Linked DNA regions of Homo sapiens: region 1 is linked to region 2. The links come from fine-mapping of genetic effects on gene expression. Tissue or cell type: whole blood. Region 2 holds a variant in brackets; the other region holds the start of a gene. All regions are shown on one strand. Distances are between the middles of the regions.

The links. PIP is the estimated chance that this variant, and not a neighbour inherited with it, causes the effect.
Region 1: it holds the start of IFIH1, and the variant in region 2 is fine-mapped to the expression of IFIH1 in whole blood (INTERVAL, PIP above 0.99).

Annotation. Positions count from the first base shown.
Region 1 is chr2:162,313,890-162,322,043 of GRCh38, forward strand. IFIH1 (interferon induced with helicase C domain 1) reads right to left here and starts at 4,795. Exons shown (of 16, transcript NM_022168.4): 1 at 3,966-4,795. The coding sequence starts at 4,418. It also overlaps a transcript of GCA not described here. RefSeq lists a silencer at 4,590-4,679 and enhancers at 4,710-5,259, 4,828-6,027.
Region 2 is chr2:162,341,991-162,350,189 of GRCh38, forward strand. It overlaps GCA (grancalcin), which reads left to right and starts at 2,142. Exons shown (of 8, transcript NM_012198.5): 1 at 2,142-2,285; 2 at 5,588-5,752. The coding sequence starts at 2,259. RefSeq lists enhancers at 1,699-1,928, 1,781-1,950 and silencers at 1,979-2,128, 2,369-2,448. The variant G/GGTGGTGGTGGTGGTT (reference allele first, on the strand shown) is at 3,141.

The DNA of each region.
Region 1 (8,154 bases), 28 kb before region 2:
GACTTGGGTGCTCAACTTCATGTTGGGAGAACTGGACTGTTCTTAGGTGGACTAGTCATGGCATCTCTGGTTCTTCTGTGTAAATGGAAGGTGTGTGGAGTCTCCAGGACTACAGATGCATTGTGTTCTGAACTGGCCAGGGATGAAACATGCATCTCTCTTTAGCTGTTCAGCTTGATTATTAAGACACTATGGAAATGTTTATATGATCACTTTCGTTCCCAGAGTTCATGACTGCCTAAATTGATGGGTGTGCCAAGTTGTAACTTAGTTATAACTAAGATGTAACAATGCCAAATTGTAACTTAGCATCCTAAAAGAGGAGCAAGGCAGTACAGGGGTACCCCCTTACCATTAAGGATTGCTTTATTATAATGATTGATAAAATGGCATATATTTATTGCTGAAACTCTAGTATTTAGAATAGTCCCTTGTATACAGTAGACATTCTTCTTTCCTTCCTTCCTTTCTTCCTTCCTTCCCTCCCTCCCTCCCTCCCTCCCTCCCTCCTTTCTTTCTTTCTTTCTTTTCTTTCTTTCTTTCTTTCTTTCTTTCTTTCTTTCTTTCTTTCTTTCTTTCTTTCTTTCTTTCTTTCTTTTTCTTTCTCTCTTTCTTATTAGATGGAGTCTCGCTCTGTCACCAGGGTGGAGTGCAGTGGCGCCATCTCAGCTCACTGCAAGCTCCGCCTCCCAGGTTCATGCCATTCTCCTGCCTCAGCCTCCCGAGTAACTGGGACTACAGGCTCCCACCACCACACCCAGCTAATTTTTTTGTATTTTTAGTAGAGACGGAGTTTTACCGTGTTAGCCAGGATGGTCTCCATCTCCTGACCTCGAGAGCCACCCTCCTCGGCCTCCCAAAGTGCTGGGATTACAGGCGTAAGCCACCATGACTGGCCTACAGTAGACATTCTTTTATCAACACTAATTAACACTACAACACAACTTCACGAAAGGACAAAACAGTCTCTGTGTTTTTCTCCTATCTTTTCACCACTAGCATGGCATCCGGCACAAAGATGCCACTCAATAAATTCAAACTGAATGAATGAGTGAATGAATGAATAAGTTTTTGGGTACTTGCTGGACACAAACCTATGTATAAAGTCATTTTCAGAAGGCCTGCTGTAATTACGGGCAGGGGCTAGGAAATGGGGTGGGAATCCTAAATTAAAATAATAGATCAAGTAGAAAATGTCTATGGGGAAACAGAAAAAGAATGAAAATACAAGACCATTTTATAGAAGTCTTGATTACTTAGTTAAATGCTATTTTAAGCCTTCAAAAAAGCAAATTTGGAAATCTTATTTTCATCATTCATCCATTCTCTAACGCCTGGCAACACAATTCAATACGTCATGTGTTTTCAACGCTTATTCCAGACACTTTCAGAAATAAATTCAATTAGTCTATCAATCAAGTAATCAATGCTTACTAAACACCAACCCTCTACCTAATCCTAGTTAGGTTCTGGGATGAAAGAGGTAATTTCTTTTTCAAATCAGTATAATCTAGGGACTTTAAGAAGTATATCTCAATTGCGACATGGGGAATTTACCTCAATCTCTCAAACTTAAATTTACACAGAAATGTAACCAGATGAATGGTTACAAAAGTCAACACCATTATCATATCAAATAGCTCTGATTTATAAGCTTTTTCATAAACACTATTTCTGATTTGATGTTGACTAAAATACTGTGAGAAATTTTATGATGTCCATTTTCACAGGTAAATGTAGCATCAGGGAACTTCAGTAATTTGGCCCAAAGTAACGCATATAGTAAGAAGCCAAGATGGACCTCAAATCCATGTGTTCCCCTTCTACAGTCTTATCACACTTTGCTGCTGTAAGATAAACATTTGTCAATGACCACCACCTCAATATAGATTATTCTACCAAACTTAATGCTTCCGTCTCATTGTCCACCATATCTTAGTTTTGGAACTGATAATACATGTAAATGATGCACACAAAAATTATTCCACACTCTCACAGAGAAACTATTGCTTCCTAGAGAGCCTCAAATTTATAGCTGCTCAGTCTTTTGGGGCCTCCTTTGAAATGTGAATCAGAGGGAGAATTTGGGTTGTTTTGGCCTTAACTGCTACCAGTACACAAAAGTCCCGTTACTCTATATCTTCTTTGTGTCAAATCCCTTGCATTACTGCTAGCTGCCTCCAAGCTTGCCAGAATCAAGAACTTGGATAAAATCTAGCTGGCGGAAATTCAATCCAGGCAAGACAAAAGTGATGCTGATAGGCAGAAGTATTTAGAGTAAATAGGGAGAAGTGCTGTTTCGCTGGCAATCGGGACATCATACCCACCAAACATAAACAGCTTTGTGGTGTTACTGGACTCTGTTGCTTCTGGACTTCTAACAGCTACTGTGGCTGGAAATGCCATCTTCCATCTCCAGCTGGCTTGAAGGCTGCATACTTTCTTCCAAATTAAGATTCTGCCACAGTGATGTACACATTTGTCATATCCAGCTGGACTACTATAATGCGTTCTAGCTGGTTCTCAATACACAAAACGACATAAACATTACAGACAACAGTGCAAAGTAATTTACTTGTTGGGAAAACTGGCCATCAAAATTAGATGCATGTTTGGGTCTTTGGACAGGCCCTGTGTCTGTCAAGTCTACAAAAGATCACTAACTTTATTCACTAAAGACTAAATTGCATCATAGGCTATAGCAAATCAATCAAATGCCCAGAAGTTTGTATGAATATACAAACAATGGATGACCCAAAAGAGAGAGAGAGAAAAAAACCATGTGAAAATCATAGAGTGGTGTAGACAAAGCCTTTGACTTTTAGTCATGGCTTTATTTGTCTACATGTCTTCCAAAACAAGACTTTTGACTTACGAGCCTGAATAAGTCACATTCAAACAGGTCAGCATTTATACACATCACAGTACATCTTCACTTATCAAAAAATAATTCATATCACATTCAATGTAAAGTCATCAGTAAAATTCGCCCTGTCAAAATGCTACCTTAAGAAAAATGAGTTTCTTCACTAACATGAAAAACTGAAACTAGCAACACATTCTTTCAATGAATTGTTTCTAAATTTTGATTCTCAAAGAATGTTGAAACTTTGATTAAAGAAAAAGGGTGTGTGTGTGTGTGTGTGTGTGTGTGTGTGTGTGATTGCAATTTACCCATTTGGGCTAAGACTAAATGGCACAAAGTGTAATGTAGGGCAAAGATTGGAAAACTTTTTCTCTAAAATGCCAGATAATAAATATTTTTGGCTTTAAGGGCACACAGTCTCCATCCAATTGCCTTTGGAGTAGAAAAGCAGCCACAAGCAATATGTAAACAAACGAGCATGACTGTGTTCCAATAAAACTTTATGAACACTGAAAATTAAAAATTGAAAAATCTGAAGACCATTCTTAGCCTGTGGGCCTGAAAAAAACAGTAGCAGGCTTGATTTAGCCCATGGGCCGTAGTTTACTAACCCCTGCTCCATGGAACTACATTAAATAAGAAAAACATTCAACACTATCACAAGCTAAATTCTTAGCTCTGCCACTGTTTTTCCTGGGAGACCTTGGACAAATTATTTAACCTGCCTCAGGTTTCTCATCTGTAAAATGGAGTTAATAACATTAGGAGCCTCAGTGGGTTACTCTGAACATGAACTGTAGTAATACATTTTGAAAATGATACCAACTGCACATAGTAAGTGTTCAATAAAAGTTACCTGTTAATACACATTACGATTCTAGAGTTAACTCCTTTTTACTTCAGTGAAAACATTAGAAAAGTAGTTCTTTTGTGTTTAAATTTTTAAAATTGTCTTAAAGTGCCTAGATGTTGTCTTCTCAAAGGAAGAAACTAGATTTGCCCAAAGAGGTCAAGCACATTTGGAAAGGGGCAAACGCACAAGGAAGCCTGCTTTGCAAAATCTGCCTAAAAGGCTAGCTCCATCTGAACAGACACCTACCCGGTTTCTGTCTTCAATTGTCAACAGTTCCTCCTCCATGCACTTATCCAAGACGTCTCTAACTAGAAGCTTGTCCACCAGAGTGGGCTGAAGGAGGTTCAGCAGTTGGAGATATTCATCATGAGCGTTCTCAAACGATGGAGAGGGCAAGTCCGTGAGCTCAGGGTTCATGTAGCGGGCGGCCAGAGGGCTGCCGGTTCTCCGGAGGGCCTCCACGAATTCCCGAGTCCAACCAAGGTGCCAGACTCCCTTCTCCAAGGTGCTCAGCAGCAGTTCAACTGCCTGCATGTTCCCGGAGGTGGCGACTGTCCTCTGAATCTGCTCCTTCACCTCTGCAGGCAGAAAGGTCAGGTAGTCCAGCACAGGCTCCACCTGGATGTACATTTTCACCCTGGCCCTGAAGCACGAGATGAGATAGCGGAAATTCTCGTCTGTGGAATACCCATTCGACATCTTTCTTTCTCAGAGAAGGGAGAGGGTTCTCCCAAGCAGATGGTGCTGTTGTCTGCGGGACAGGTGAAATGTGCGTGCCGCTGTCCGCTGCCCACTTAGAGAAGCAGGGTCTACCGCTCTGTGCCTGACAATGACGAGGTTGTCCACAGGGCTCTCAGGCCGGCGCGCGGGGCTGCACTCGCACCTGGGCAGGTGGGCAGGCGGGCAGGTGGGCAGCGGGGCGGCGCGCGGGGCCGCGGCAGGCAGGTGCGGCCGGCAGGCGCGGCACTTTGGACTCTGCGGTGTGCGCCTGGGGTCCCGGACCGGGGCGATCCTGCTGCACACTCGGGTAGGAGCTTTGAGTCCAGCTTTCTGTCAGGCAGTTCTTACAGAGTTTGCCTGACTTTGGTTTCTGTTTCGATTCTCTTCTCAGGACTTTGTAAACGTAATCTGCCTGGCGGGGAGGGAGTTTCCTCAGGGAGACGCCACCTTTTGGTCGGGGCGGGTGAAGAGAGGAGGCCTTTGGTTAAGGACACCGCGGGAAACAGAAAAGGAAAGCGAATTCTCTCTGACACCAAGACCAACGCTCTAGCAAAGCTCCTCCGGCGGATATTTTGTTTTCCCAGCAGGTTCTGCCTTAACAATAAGGTCCTTTGTAGGCCAAAATGTGCAGGGCATAAAAGCATGTGATTTGGGACTTTCCAAAGGGGAAGTGAACAGAAACTGCCACAGACCCGGACGTGAACAGGGAGTTACCCTCGGCTGGTGAATGTAGGCAGGCCTGGCTGAGGGTGGTGAGACTGCGAGGGACAGGTGAGAGATGAAGCTCAGAAGACATCTTTGCAGAGATGTGGAGAAGACAGGAGGAAGTCCTTCCTAAAATAAACCTGACCTCCTGTGGGTTCCCAAACACTAACTTGTTTCCCTGGGAATTTGGAGGTGGGTTCGAAAAAGTGAGTAACAATAAACAGTTAACTTTACTGCCTCATATTTAGATTGCTGGTATTTATGCAGCTTTGACCAGGACCTGGTAACAGATGTGGATGGACTTGAACCACCAACTCAGCTTAGAAGGAAGCCAAGACTTAAAGTTTCCTAGATCCCAGCTTGTAAGTTCCCTATATTCTTTAATATACAACTTTCCTTTAATAAAACAAAACAAAAAAATCCCCCAACAACTTATTTTTGATATAGCTGCCATTCTTTTCTTGGATTCAATACAGCAAGTTTTGGCTGGAGCAGCTAGGAACTTAATTAGCAACTAATGTACCAACTTGTAGTAAACATCAACATTTGTCTATGTCATGAGAGAAAAAAAACATATTCACACTGAAAAATGGCAGCTTCATTTTGGTACAGAAGCCACATAAATGTGAGTCCTTAAGGTTACTACTCATTCTGAAGGCATTCTGTAGCCACATGTGACTGTGGGTGGTAGGCACATACGCACCATAACTAGAATCTCATGGTCCAGAATTATATAAAGGATGGAGAGATCATTTAGGTTATCAAAGAGACATATTTAGGAAAAATAATCTGTTAGCAAAGTACATTCAATAAAGTCTGTGTAGGCCAGGAAAACCTGATAGTGCTTTGAACAGGATAATAGAAGTACAGAGTCTTGGTGAGTGTTTACTAGGGGCATACAAAATATCCAAATGAGCACTTTATGGTAACATGTCTTATTTTATTCTCTAATTATCTTATGTAGCAAGGCTTTTTCTACCCCTGAAGGATTGTAAGCTGCTTGAAGAAGGGATATATTTACATAGTAACTAGTACACTACTCACAACTGGTGGGCTCTTGATGACATCTCTCCTGGGAGTTGTATTTGAGTTGACCATAGCAGCTGGCATAATGTTAAATACACTGAAAGTTGAAGTAAATGAAACCTTGGGCTTGCAGGTAGGCCTGATTTATACTGTTCTTTTCTGTTTCTTCACAGAACCCTACTCCTTTTTCACTTAATTTTGGGAGATGACCTTGTACCCAGATAGAGGATAATCCAATTAGATGTTTCTACAAAAGCACTCAAATTATTAATTTTAAGTATTGGGTCTATGAAAATATCTTTTAAGGCTGTTGCAAAAACATACTCCTATCCCCCAGCTGCCAGTGGGTTTTATTCAACATGTTAAAGCACAAACTAACAAACCAAAAAACATTCTTTTTCCTGGCACTTATCCTTCTGTTTCTTGGTTTCAAACATGGGGGAATGAGAAGGGGTTGCTGACTGAATATGGGGAACCAGTTAATGTTATTTTCTTCATACCACTTAATTGTTGCTCTGGAAGAGAAAGGATCAAATGTTTGGTATTTGACCTGTTCTCAAATAATAAACATTTAAACCAAAGATATTTAAATATTTGGCATTCAAATTATATCATTCATTGTATCATCTAGTCATTTAAAATATGTTTATTAAGTATCTATTACATGACCAGCACTGATCTAGGTGCAGTTAATAAAATTAACAAAGCTCCTACTTTTATGGAGTTCACATTCTAATGGGAGTGGGAAGATAGATGGTAAGTAATGACTAAAAAATATGCAATGTGCAGGTGAGGATAAATGCCCTGAAGACCATAGTAAATCTACATAATAATGTATATTACAGTTTCACAGGTTGATTTCCCAAATAGTCATCCTCCTCTAACCCTATTAGCATCACATAATACCCAACAATAACAATTCATATTTTCTCACAAGTAGGAGTCTCTCTGCTGGATGAGGTCTGAGTGATGAGGATTAGGTGTGGGTGGAAGGGACTTCTTTTTTAGGAATCTCCCATAGTCTTGATGGGACCCTTTTTGGAGAAAGGAGGTTAAGGAAACAAAAGCCAAGACACAATCTCTCACAATGTATCCTTTTTTCATCTATATTTTTTGCATCATGATTTAGTTTATTTTCTGTTTTTCACTTGAGTAATTAATTGTTTTCCTCTGTCAAGTTTCTTCTACTAGGTTTCATTTTAATCCTTTTCACCAGTTCCCAAATGTAAGTTTCTTTTTCCTTTCTCTTTTGAGGCAGGAGATCCTGCTGAACTATGTATTTTCCCATTGTTATGCAACTTTTCATTTGAGTTTTTAAGAAGTAGTAACAATATGAGCTGCCACTACAATTTAACGACCATGCATAGCAATAATGTCTTTTTCAAAGAAAATGACAATAATTTTAGTTTAGTGAGAAACCCTGGAATTGTTGTTCTGTTCCTTTACTTGTTTGCTCATTTGTATCAATAATGAGCCTGCTTTGTGTAATTTAAAGTGTTAGATGCTCTTAACCTGGCAGTGTGGGGTATGGTTAAGCACAGAGACTCTGAGTTCAGGCTGTCTGAGTTCACATCTCAATACTATTTCTTAATTGCTGTGCTTTGAAAAATCACCTCAAATACATCAGTTGTAAAATGGAAAGATTCTGGTATCATGTCAGAAGTTTGTTCTAAGGATAGACTGTAACACACTAGCACCAGCCTGGCATGTTTATGTGCCCAATATGTGACTCCAGCCCACTACGCTTATATAAAAATTAAAGAAGAGATGGTGCGGTGCTAGTCTTCAAAGAATGCACAATTTATAAAGGAAAAATTTAGTTACATATATATATATATATATATATATATATATATATATATATATATATATATACACACATACATATAAACACTATATAATAGCTAGCCATTTAACTGAGACTTTAAGCAAGACTTTCAGCCATTTAACTGAAACTGATAGGCTGATTTAGCAGGAAAGTTTA
Region 2 (8,199 bases):
GAAGGATTTTATTAAAAGAAAAATATTTAAAAAGCAAATTTTTTAAATAGACATGACATTTTCATAAAATGCTATTGTTCATACAGTATTAACTTGACTCATGGAGGCAAATTAACATTACTGTTATTTAAAAAAAACTCTATGGCCTTATTTGAATTTTTATACTAGAATATTTAAAATTTGAAACACTAGTTTTAGAGAGAGAGATGCTGTGTTGTTCAAAGTCCTCCTCTGCATCTTCATGGTAGGAACTTTCTTTGGTAGCCCTTTCTCTAAGTTAAGAGATATATTGGCAGGAACTATGAAGGATCTGATATTTTACCCTAGTTATAAGCAAACAAGTAGAGTGCCACAGTTTCATGGAAGTTGGCAGAATGTGTGAGATTCCTGAGTCTGAGACAAATAACTTTATTACTCAAAGCACAACAGGCACCATGAGCTTCATACTTCCATAGATTCCCCTCGTTCTGAAGTCCCACAAGGCGAAGAGGAGCTGCCAGATGGGTGTTGTACATGCACTGTGTTTGTTATGCAACTGGAAGAACTCCAAGCTTAGGAAAGTCCTAAGAAGGCTGCTAGCAAACGTACCCAAACTTTGCCCTGGCAGGAAATACTATCTTTGCAATTAAATGTGCAGAAAGGCAAGAAACCCATGGGGCCTTAACTCCCAACTGCACAAATGCAGCTGCATCAATAAGGCTATTTTGATGAAAACAAGATGCACAAAAATTTTGACCACAGAATCAGACTAACATTGTAAATGTAAACACTCAATCCTTCCTAAGCAGTTCTTTGAATATGTAGTTAATCCGTTGGAATAAAATTTTGCAATGGTTTGTTCTTTCTAGCGCTTTATCATTTGATACCTTCATAAGCCATGCATTTTTCCCTTTTGCCACGTAGGTTTTACCCTTCCCCTCTATTTATTTATGCCAATAATTTAACCTTAGTGGCTTAAGTATTTCTTACAGCATTGAAGGAACTTACAGACACTTTCCCAAGAGTAGCTAGGACATCGGCAATCTTCCTTTCTCTCTGCTGTTTCCTCTGAGAATTGTTTCACAAGGTCCAACATCCTCTTCTGTAGCATAGCTGAACAACAGATACTCAGCTCTGCAAGGCTGATTTCCTTTGTGAATAGTTAACATTTTTTTGATAGCCTTATTTTTAAGAAACATGTTAGCCCTTCTCTTGTTCTTCAGAGATAACTCAAAATAATATCATTTGGTTTTTTCATTTGTTCATAAGCCAAAGCTACAGCTGCCTTGTCCTTTTAAAGTCAGAGCTACAAAATTCATTTGAGTTCCAGAGATAAATCAGACTTGTCCATTGCTATTACTTAATAAGCCAAAGTAATTGAACATTTAACAAGAGTTTGCCCAAAGGCTGAGTCAGATTATATACAGGACACCGTCTATATTATCAGTGTATAAACAGCAAATAAGTTTTTAGTGTATGTTCACGTCCTGTGCAATATTTGGGACATACTTACACTAAAAAAGTTTATTTGGAAATCAACTTTAACTAGATATCCTGTTTATTTGCCAACATGCCACAATTCAGGTCACCATTTATCTACCAAACAGAATCAATAACCTGTTCGTCCAATGTGGCCTCAAGTGGGTTTTGGCGCAGAAGCACTCCTCCTGGACCACAGGTGTGGTCCTGGTTGCAAAGTTTTGATGTGACATCAACACTACACAAAAGTAAATGTAACTGCAAAATTTTGAAATTCACAGATGGGTCTTTGAAGTCCAGCTCAAAAGCGTGGAGGGCTGGTTAAAATAAGTCACAGACTTGCCGGTTTGGGGTTTCTAGAAAGAAAAGTAACTTGAGGAGTTGAAGGCTTGTAGAAGACCTTTCCACAGAGAGTGGGAATTCCGTTGCAGCAGCCAAGGCTTCTTCGGGATTTAGAAGGAGAGCGCGCGAGAACCTGAGGGAGCCAGTAAGAGTCGAGCAGGGACTGGAGGGCTCCCGATGGGGTGTAGCCAATCAGGGCAGAGATGGGTGGGGCTAGGCTGCGGGAAGGGGCGGACTGCAGCTGAGTTGGCTCCAAAGTGTGGGACTCAGCCAATCGGAACCGTGCAGGGCGGGGCTGGCCTGCGGAAGGGGGCGGGTTCGGAGGAGTGAACTGTGCGGTTAGTGCGCCTTTCAGCCTCACCTGCAGCTGCGCCTCCTTGCACCTGCGCCTGTGCTTTTTCTCCCAGCACTGCGGACGCGACTCGAGGGTGACGCTCGCTCCGCTCGTCCCGCTCGTCATGGCCTACCCGGGATACGGAGGAGGGGTGAGTCCCAGCCGCTTGGTCGTGTCCCTCTTCCTCGCGGGGTGTGGCGCCCCCGGGGGCGGTGCCAACGTGCGGGTCCGCCCTTGGCTCCTGCTCCCTGCGTCCGCGCCTGGTACTCGGCGGCGCCGGATTCCGGGGCTGTTGGGGGCCAGGGCCTGGGCGAGCATTGATCCTGGGCTGACTTGGAGCCGCAGGTTTTCTGGTCGTTGAGGACCCTCGAGGAGCGTCCTGGTGGAGCCGAGGGAGTAATGTGTGTTTGGAAATTTATTTCCTGGAATGGAGGAACAAGCCACCCTCTTCTTGTTCCAGTAATCGTTTGTGGTACTTCCCTCCCCCGCCCCCCACTCAGTGTTGCTAGAGATCCTCTTTTTGAATTTCCTGACCACTTCTTGTTCTTTAAGTTCCTTATGAATAAATTAAGGTGTACGGTAAATAACTCCTAATCTTTACTGTTATACGAAGGGCAATCTGTTCTAGACTCCCCCGCTCGCCCCCAGGCGGGGGGAAGTTACTCTTTGTTATAACTTTTATCCTGCATCACCTTTGGGAGTTGCAAGTTATAATCGTAGAGTCCTGGTGGCTAGCCCCTTCTTTTCAGAAAGGAGCCCAAACCTTTAGTATCGATGTCAGTGATCTACACGCTGTGTTAACAGAGTTAACAGTAGTTTGATCCATTGCGGTGTGGGTAGAATATAATATATTTTCTATTTGTTTTTTACCTAAAAAGAGAAATTGTGTTTTACTGATTTTAATATAGGACTTGACTTTGGGCTATGGTTGTGGTCTTCAAAAGAGTTACTCCTACCCCTTGGAGTTCATGGTGGTGGTGGTGGTGGTGGTGGTGGTGGTGGTGGT[G/GGTGGTGGTGGTGGTT]GTGGTTGTGGTTGTGGTTGTTGTTGTTGTTTTAGGATATGAATTTCCAGGTCCTCAACTTCCACACATACTTGTTCCTAAAATTGATTTGCTTTCCTTAAGACTTGCCTCAATCCCCTCTGGCACCGTCCACTTTGTAATGCCTATGCCTCCTCAGTCCTTAAATTTAGGAAGGAAGTTTAAGGTACCTAAGGAAAGTAAAGCCCCTTCGAAGATTAATCAAGATAGCATAAACCTGTGGGTCTTTAAAAACGTCCCTAGCGTATACGTATTTTCATTTGGTTGAAGCTATCTGTTAGAAGTTTGTATATTTACTCCTCTTGGTATGCTCTGAATTCATATATGTATGGTAGAGTGAGGTGGCAAGAGTAATACATTTTCATTCAAATAATTTGGTGCTTCCTTACCCACTTTTGTCAGAGTGCTTGAATTTGATGGAGAGTTCCACGACACAATAAAGAGAACGTCTGTATGTGTTTTGAATATTTAAATCCCCTTTTCCATGAATTTAAAATAAACAACTCTTTTCAGCTGTTGTCATGCTCATTATTAATCGCCGGAAAGAGAAGTACCCTCAATAGCTGAAGCAATATATAGATTAGAGGCACTGATTTTAAAAAATGTAATTGAAATATTTTAAGATACATTGGATAAAATTTTGGGATAAAACTTACATGATTTCTTTAGTAGGAGAATATTAATAAGATAGTTGAGACGTTTATAAATCCTGTTAAAGGAAACCCATGCCTTATTAATGTTTCTTATATTCTTTTAACAAAATATAAAATGTCAGCTGCTAGACCTAATTGTTTTGATAGTATACTTTTATCTAATTAAGTGCATGATTTATCTCTGTAGGAGATGCATTTCCAATAGATTTTTACTTTCTTCTTTTAAGAATTGTTTATAAAAATTGTATTATTTTCTTTTTTTTACTAATTGTATACGAATAAAAATTATAACTCAATGTAAAGGACTTTTTTCTTTGTTTCTCACTTTGGTCACAGGAAATGAAACAATCTAAAACTTCGTTACATGTTTTTGTTTGTACATGTTGTATTATACAAGCTTCAGTGTTTTCAATAATAAAAAAACATTTTAAGCACAGAAAACTTAAACAGATTAGATTTTCACACAAGAAATAGCATACAAAATCAATTCAAAGATGAAGAATCTGTCCTTAGGAATAACTTTTAATCTGTTTTCCCTTCCCAATTTGCAGCATTAGCTTTCCCCAGTCCCATAATTTGAGAACCTGGTGGTCAGATTAATGATGGTTACCAATTCTTTACCACTCCCCTTATCGAAAGGCACAGACTATTTCTCCACTTTCTTCAATCTGGATTGGGCCTGTTTCACCTTCATCTGGTAGAATACAGTAGAAAAGACACCATGGCAGTTCCAGACTCAATATTTTAAGAGGACTGGCAGCTTCTCTTTCTCTCTCTTAGAAGCTGACTGCCAAGCTATGAAAAAGTGGAAGAGCCATGTGAAAGGGCCCATGTGGAGGAGAACTGGGGCCCCTGGCCAACAAGGTTCATCCCTAAACACGGTTTACATAAATTTATATTTCAAGTTGTCCTCTTGACAGTTTCAAATGAGTCAAAATTGATCATTATTATTATTACTACATAATGTGGGTAAGGAAAGGCTTAGACAATATTTTCATGTCCAAGCCTTTCATGTTGCTTTGCATGTTTTTGAATCTTTACTATTGCCATTTTGTTATGGCTTTAGTTAAAACTAGATCACATAATCTGTAACATCAGAGAATCCCACATATATAAACTGTAATAAGTCACAATAGGCTGAAAAGAAACAAGTGGGAGGCCAGCATACAGAACTCTATGTCATCCCTCAGGATACTACCAGAACCACAGCAGTTTCTTTAAACATTTTGCTTCCCGCCCCTTAAAAGATTTTTGAAAAACTATATACCCTTTTCCCATATTTTATATTGACATATAAAGTTTTTATTTTAAGTTTAAATAGTTGTAAAGAATACAATACCCAACATATTGTAAATGTTGACACTTAAAGTTTCATTGTATTTACACATATATTCTTCTAAGTATGTGTCTTGAGGTTTACTTCTTAGTTTTACTTTAGGTAAAATCTTGCATTGTTTTACTTTTTGTTTACTTCAGTGATGTTGGTAAACATTTTTTAAAATTGTACATGTTCCTCTTAGATTAAGTTCTTAGAGGCTAGTAACTTTCTTTTTTCTTTTATACTTCTTTTAATGCTGGGTAATATATGTTGATGAATTGAATTATGTCTTAATGTAGGACATCTAACATTTTGTAGTTAAAATTTTTGTGATAAGATTATAAGCTTTTGGTAACTGTTTACTTTTTGACGGACTTCTAATAATTTCTTTTAATCCAACTTTCATAGATAATAGGTAGTATTTATATTACTAACCTTCTCCCCTTTCACTATTATAGTTTGGAAATTTTAGCATTCAGGTGCCAGGAATGCAGATGGGACAGCCAGTGCCAGAAACAGGCCCAGCTATACTCCTCGATGGATACTCTGGGCCAGCATATTCAGACACTTATTCCTCAGCTGGTGACTCCGTGTATACTTACTTCAGTGCTGTTGCTGGACAGGTGAGATGCTAAATTTATTGCATAAATATGTCTTTAAAATTATTGTTTAAGAGAAATGTCAGCTATTTAGAGTATCATTTTAAATGTATATGAAATTTATATTTTATATGTATCTAGACTAATTTTTTTCCTGAGATCAGAGATGAGCATAGTCATAATTATTTCATTTTAAAAGTCTGTTGATGTGATGCTTGATACATTGTTCATTTGACTAAAAGAGGAAACATTGTTTTCCATAGTGCGGAAATCTGATTCTTTCTTACCTAGTATGCTTGCGTTACTGAAATTCTTCTACAAGGGGCTCCTCTTACTAGTCACTAAACACCCCACCAAAACTTAGATATATCTTCTTATGAGTTATAATTTTTCTGTCACTTAAATCTTTTTATTTCCTTCACTCTGTTTGACATTTAGGAGCATCATACTCTCCCTGAGTGATAGATAACACAAAGCTAAGTAGGTTTAGCCTGCACATTCTTTTATAGCATGCAAAAATGACTATTGGAAATTTTAGGAAAGTAGGAAGCACTTTAAAAAATTATAAGGAACAATATTTCTAACTTGGGCCTCACTCCCATTTTTTAAAAAAAACTCAGTTAAAACCTAAGTATGTCAAACAATATGATTGGAAATCACTTCAGAGTCTCGTAAATTTATTCAGGTTGAGAAATTACATTTTTTTCACAGGTGAAGTTATATCATTTATAGTAATTTTGATTTGATATGGCTGGTAAATTTTCCAGGTTATCAAAATAATCATGTCAGGATTTATTAATTAAAAATTAAAGGAAATAGTATGTTACGATGTGGTATGGTTTTAGGATGTTATTTGTTTCCAGTAAATTTGAGTGATTATTTAAAGGACTGACTTTATTATGACCAATAGGGACGTGTGAAACTGCCAGTTCAAGTACATGAATTCTGTGGGTGAATTGTTACTGATGATATGTGAATACTGTGGTCAACGGAAGCTTTTCTTTTACTCCTACATAACTGTAACACCATACCACAGTTTATTCTTTTCCAAGTGATTTTATATATATTTTTCATGTGAAATTTCAAGGAAAATTAAGCAAATAGGATATGTATTATACCCCTTTGTATCAGTTATTAGTTGTATTTGACAGAAGTATTGAGTAAATATTCAAGATCGGAAGGAATACAATATTATAAGATGCCAATGTCTTCCAAATTAATTGATAAATAATATAATATTATATGAGTCAAATTCCTAAAGGTTTCTTTTTCTTTTTTCTTTTTGGCACTTGCTGCAATGATTCTAAAGTCTGTCTTGTATACTATGTTGTTGAGAATAAATATTAAATTATAATATATCATATAAATGTATTATTAATAATTGTGATAGTGTGGTCCTAATGTAAAAACAAACATAATACTGAAGAGCCCAGAAGCTTACCTGTGAATTCAGTATATGGTAGAGGTAGCATTTCATATCAGTGGGGAAAGAATGATTCCTGAATTAACTATCCTGAAATAATTAACAGTTTATCTAAAAGTAAATGTAAATCTTCAGCCTGTACCATATAGTAGCATGAATTCCAGATATATTAAAGGATTGAAAAGAGGGTGTATTGATGTTTATCTCCTGTTGTTGAAATAAATGAGCTTGTCTTTTTTTTTTTGCTGCTGCTTCAGCATGTATTGCAGCACCTGCTATATTTGTGTTTTTGTCTACAAAACTTCTTAGAAGAGTGATGAACTAAGATAGTTGCATGTGTTAATGAAACATTTGGGAACATCTTTTTAAGATGTGTGTTTTTTTTTCTTGATATGTTTCATTCACTTGTTTAACAATTTGGGGGGAAAGTTGAAAGCTCTTCTGTGGTTATGGAATACAGTGGATTGGTGCATGGAGACTGGGGGCCAGAGAGGATTTGGAAAAAGAGATCTACATGAAAATCATCTTGAAGGAGTTGGGGCAATGTATCAAAGAGGAGATTTGTAAATTGTGGATGGTTCTGGGACAGGCTCGATGATAAAACAGATTAGGAAAAGGCAAAGAAACTGGCAGAATGGATGTTCTAATACCATACTAATGGGCAGAAACAGAAATTCACTCTAGAGTCTTAGCTGTAGTCCATATCTCTTTTCTTTTATAATGGTCAAGAAAGATTTATTGATGTAGGTAGAATTTTATAGAACTTTAATAACATTTTATTCATTCCCTTGAGTGTTCACTAGGTCTAATGTGCTTTTCTAGGATTAGACAATATACACAGAATTAATATACGTGGCAGACATTCTGTTTTGGCTACCCCAATTTCATTTAAAACCCCCTTTTACCTTTTATTATGTAATAGAGGCTGGGGAACTATAATAGTCACCATCCCAGATACCTTTGTAGCTATTAAAGGCAGCCATGTGCCGTAGGACTGACCATTGACATGTAGGTGCAGTATCTTTGGAAAATCTTTCTACCCCAAATG